2 separate regions of the Homo sapiens genome follow, and region 1 is linked to region 2. A link means that fine-mapping ties the variant in region 2 to the expression of a gene that starts in the linked region. Tissue or cell type: whole blood. Region 2 holds a variant in brackets; the other region holds the start of a gene. All regions are shown on one strand. Distances are from middle to middle.

Region 1 (2,500 bases), 130 kb after region 2:
ACCCCCACTCCACCTGCCCTCATGTCTGCCTTCCCCTTCTGCACCCCTGCTGGGCTCCTGAGGAACAGGATGGAAGGAGAGTGTGTCCCCTACCCCCAGCTTCCAGTCTCAGGAGGGTCAGAACAGACAATACAGGTCAAAGCAGCAAGGCTAAGGGTGACAGGTACACAACGCTGCAGCCCCCAGATCTAGAGACAAGATTAGGATTTCGGTCAGAGGGGGATGAAGCACACACCATCCCCACTCCCACCCAGCACCACCATCCTTCCCCTTCCTCCTCCTGGGTCAGGGTCGAAAAGTGGAGAATCCCCAGAAATCCTTTAGAGTCCTCTGATGAAGCCTCCCGAGTCCTGCCTTCGAGCCAGTGGGGAGGGGGAGAGGAGGATGATTACAGGGCGGCCCCCCCAGGGGCATCTCAAGACACTCCCAGGACAGCATGGACAGGCATGGACCCTCCTGCCCTGTGGCTCCTGCCAGGACCCCTCCCCTGAGCTGCCCAGTGGGTGAAAGTGGGCAGTGGAGAAAGAAAGTCCAGGGTCAAACGGGAAGGTGGCACCCCCTACCAGCAGAAGCCCAGAAACACGAGCAGAGCCAGGGGCCCCTGCAGGGCTGCTGTGCCCCTTCTCTCTTCCCAAATAGGAGTGAGCACACCTGGACCTCTGAGAGGGCAGGAGGGTGGCTCCTCTCCACTCCACGGACAAACAGGAGTGGCCTGGCTACATAAATGTGTGCCATCCTCACTGCTACCTTTGGAATAGCAACTTCGAAAGGGAACCACCCTTTGGGAAAGACCAAGGGTCCCAGGCCTGCCCCGCCTATCACTCCAAAGCTCCTCCTTGGCAGTACCCGCCCCCCACCCCTCTGCTACAGTGGGGGTGACCTCCCACTGTCAGACAGTGGAAGGGGCTGCTTGTCAGAAGGACAGGCCTTCCGTCTCCACTCTTTGCCCCTGACTGGAATACAAGAGTTCTGTGGCCCTTCACATTGTCACAGGGCTATCGCTGCTGCTCAGGCCCTGGGGACCCGCCAGAGTGGGACACCGTGCTCCAACACAGGTGCGTTCACACACTCCTCACCTCCTTGGAAGTTCTCCTGGAGGGGCAACAGACAGTAGAGCCTTGGCCTAACCGGCCGGCGCCTGCACCCTTACACACACCTTGTGGATGTGGCTGGCTGAGATGGGGAGCCTCCCTCTCACCCCGGTGGTTTCCATCAATTCCTCTGCACTAGCCAAGTCATCCGGGGCATTTCAATGAGCCCGGGGCTGCCCAGTCTGAGAGAGATCCAGGACGCTAGTGATCCAGCCCACCCTGCCTGGAGCTTGGGCCCCCATGCTGACTGAGAGGGTGGGTTTCCCTAGCCAGGGAGCTGGAGCTGGCGCCTGGGACCTCAGGAGAGCCTGCCTGAAATGCACCCACTGCTCCTGTCCAGCTCCAGCCCAACTTCCCTCCAAGCCCCAGCCAATGCACTCACAAGGCTTCCTCAGGGCTCGCAGGAAGGAGTGAAGACTTGTGTCTGGGTTCGGACAGACAGGATGGGGCGCTGGCTGGGTGAGGGGTTTAAAGGGCTGCCGCCGTGGTGATGTCAGCCTCCCCCACTGGCTCGCTCCTCGGCCCCCTCCCTGCTAGAGGAAGCCGGCTCCGCTCCCCACCCCCGGCTCCCCCAGTGACTCCACACAGGCTCCATATTTGGGGAAAGACACCAAGTTGGAGCAGTCTACCGGGGCTGCCGAGACATTCTCTGCATGCTTTGGAGATGGAGCGGGCCGGGGCGGGGCACGCTGCCGGCGGGGAGCCGGCCCGGGAAAAGCCTTTTATGGACAGGACCCTGCCCGGACTTACGGCTGCTCCTACTTCACTGTTCTCTGGCCCCGAGTTTGAGAAGAGGGGGAGTTCAATAGAGTCTGGCTGGAGAGAGGGGCAAGGGGCTGGGGAGCCGGGAATCCCAGGGGTTTGTGGGGACAAACCAGCCACCCTCTCCTCCTGGGGCTTTTAGCTCTGATGGGACATGGGATCCAACCTTTCCTGAGGACCTACTCCACACCAGGCCCTTTGCAGTGCTCTCATTGAATACTCACAGCTACAGTGTGAGGGTGTAATTACATCCCCATTTTATAGATGAGGAAACTGAGGCCCCGAGTGCGTCTTCCTCAAGGCCACATGGTGAATGGTAAGTGGCAGATCCTGCACACCTCTGCCAACCCGCATGGGTGCAGGAGAGGTGGTCAGACCCACCCTTTCAATTGGACCACCCTGCTCAGGTTGAGAAGAGCTTTCAGTGCAGGTAGGTCTTGAGTTATATGCTTTAGTTGGGGCTGGGATTTGAGGGTTCGGCAGAAGCTGAGTCCAACTCCGGTCCCCATCCAGTGGGCAGTGTCAATAAGAGGGTCTATAAGGCCTGGCAGGGCCTGAGACACTAACGCAGGAGAAGGAGGCTCAGGAGGCTGGTATCATCCCTTCCTCCCTTTAGGAACAGTCCCTACCAGCCTGGAAAACAGACC
Region 2 (2,756 bases):
ATCATTTCTAGATGTGTTCATTTCTATGCCTCGTCCAATAGGCAGCCCCACCTACTACACTGCCTAGAAGACAGGGCATGTCCGACAAATGTTTGCTGTATTTATTAGATGAATAAATTAAAGGGACAGACTTGGCTGAGTGAATGGTGAAGCCCTTCATTGAGATAAAAAAATACAAGAGGAGAAACAGATCGGAGGGACCGGGGAAGGCTGACGATGACAGTAAGCAGGTCTGAGCTCAGGAAAGAGGTCTGGCTGGAGTAGTTTGGCGAGTCAACGCTGAAAAGCTGATAACGCAAGAGATGGAGTGCGCCGAGTAGAAGGGAGCTTTCTACTGCCAAGGACTGAGTTAGGAGAACGGACAGGGAGTCGCTGAAGCCAAGTGAGGAGAGCGGTGCCAGAGGTAGAGGGACATTTTTAAATCCAATGCAAGAAAAGGAAAAAACAAAAAAGCTTTCCAACTTTCCCAGCTGGCCAAAGATGGCATAAGATTGGGCTAGCCCCGGATTTGGACCCGGGGGGAAGCCTGCCACAGAAGTATCCCAGCAAGCTTCGGAAGGCCTGGCCTCACTCGCCAACGATGAACAGAGCAAGCAAACCAGGGCCCCGTGCCCAGTGCCCCTCTCCCGCGTCCCGACCCGCTGCTCACTCACCCGCCAGACCCCCAGCCCGGGCCCGGTGGCCCGCTCAGGAGCCGGCGAGATTTCAAACGGAGGAACTGTCGCCTGGCAGTCCGATTTTCACTTCTTCCCTCAGTCCCCGCCCACACTCGAGCGCATCACGCTCGTTGGCTCGAGAGCGTGCCTCGGGTCCCCCGCCACGCTCGCTCCCTTCCCCGCCGCCCAACCCCTCCCTCGATGAGGTCCTCAACTATCCCCCACCCCGGAAGGCTCCGGGCGAGGCTCCGGGCGAGGCTCTGGGCGAGGCGCAGCTCCCCCAACGCCACCCAACACCCACCCGCTCCCCCAGCTTCCAGGGACGCCGGGGTGTTGCCCTGCAGCGCGCAACAAACACTTCCGGAAAAGGTACCGCCTAGCAACCGGGAGTCCCGCCTCCAGCAGGAGCCAATAGGTCGCCGGCTGAGAGCTGTGACAATGGATTGGCTCGAAGTCCCTTCGGTGCACGCAGGAGCTCTGTCCGTTTTCCGTTGCACGATGGGAGTGTAGTTTAAGATAGATAATGGGAATCCGCAAGAGGTTGAAAGAGTGTAGTTTAAGATAGATAATGGGAATCCGCAAGAGGTTGAAAGAGAACCTCATCGGCTGGGCGCGGTGGCTCACGCCTGTAATTCCAGCAATTTGGGAGGCCGAGGCGGGTGGGTCACCTGAGGTCAGGAGTTCGAGACCAGCCTGACCAACATGGTGAAACCCCTTCTCTACTAAAAAAAAAAAAAAAAAAAAAAGAGGACCCCGAGTTTAGACGTGAGGATTTCTGCCAGGACAGAGAAGGACTATTTAGAGTATTTATACTAATGTGAATTATCTAATTATCTAATTGATCATTTGTTAGGAGTATGATTAACATCAGGTGAATAATACAGTGGTCATCAATAATCAACCCATTGTTACTTTAATCAACAAAACAAATGTGAATGTAAGGTAATGGAGACGCGTCCACTCCCCATCTCTCCCCGCAAAAAAACTGGCTCTCCTGTGCTCCTATTAAACCAGTGAGCACCTGACCAGGAGTTAAACCTATTTTC[T/C]ACTATCCATCTTTTCACCAAAGCCCAGGGTTCAGTTTGTATGTCTGCAAGATGGGGATAGTAATGTCTGTCATAACTATTTCAAAGAGTCTATTGAAGAAGAAAAAAAGTGACACAATGTGTAGCTCCTCCACACACCCTGTCGGGCAGAAAGGTTGCTACTAATATAATTCCGAAGAGTTTTAGTTTTGCTTGCACGGAGGGCAAATCTTCCTTTCTCTCATATGTCTCCAACCTCCTAGAGAAGTTAAGAGGGGCAAAGAAAGTTCTGGCCATTACATCAATAGGAAAACTGAGAAACAGACAAATACAGATGCTGCTAGTTGAGGAGGAAAATGATGAGGCCAAGCTCATAGAGCCGCTCCTGATAGGTTCTAGAGATGTAGCTGACTCAGGATAGTCCCAGTGCCACTCAGAGGCTGATTCCAGGATGAGAAACTCAGATTGTTGGAATATACAGAGCATATTCCTTGTGAAAATTATCAAAATCAAAATAGAGTCATTTGTTTTAAAACCCTGACAAATGGAGCCAGGGAAGACCATGAAGAGAGGGTTCTCACGCATGAATACCTGATAACAAAAACTATCGACCGGGCCTGGTGGCTCATATCTGTAATCCTAGCACTTTGCCAGGCACAGTGGCTCACACCTGTAATCCCAGCACTTTGGGAGGCCAAGGCGGGTGGATCACCTAAGGTCAGGAGTTCGAGACCAGCCTGGCCAATATGATGAAACCCCGTCTCTACTAAAAATACAAAAATTAGCTGGGCATGGTGGCACACGCCTGTAGTCCCAGCTGCTCAGGAGGCTGAGGCAGGAGGCTGAGGCACTTAAACCCGGGAGGTGGAGGTTGCAATGAGCCCAGATCAAGCCACTGCACTCCAGTCCAGCCTGGGTGACAGAGCAAGACTCCGTCTAAAAAAATAAATAAAATAAAAATTCCTACTTGAGCCAGGCACAGTGGCTCATGCCTGGAATCCCAGAACTTTGGGAGGCCAAGGCAGGTGGATCACCTGAGGTCAGGAGTTAAAGACCAACCTGATCAACATGGAGA

Evidence for each region. PIP is the estimated chance that this variant, and not a neighbour inherited with it, causes the effect.
Region 1: TAGLN starts here. The variant in region 2 is fine-mapped to the expression of TAGLN in whole blood (TOPMed, PIP above 0.99).

The regions. Positions count from the first base shown.
Region 1 is chr11:117,198,406-117,200,905 of GRCh38, reverse strand. It overlaps TAGLN (transgelin), which reads right to left and starts at 1,536. Exons shown (of 5, transcript NM_003186.5): 1 at 1,474-1,536. It overlaps LOC100652768 (a long non-coding RNA gene), which reads left to right. Exons shown (of 8, transcript NR_045215.1): 2 at 994-1,055; 3 at 2,118-2,169; 4 at 2,470-2,500. RefSeq lists an enhancer at 2,316-2,500.
Region 2 is chr11:117,326,106-117,328,861 of GRCh38, reverse strand. CEP164 (centrosomal protein 164) reads right to left here and starts at 1,008. Exons shown (of 33, transcript NM_014956.5): 1 at 958-1,008. RefSeq lists a silencer at 691-940. The variant T/C (reference allele first, on the strand shown) is at 1,703.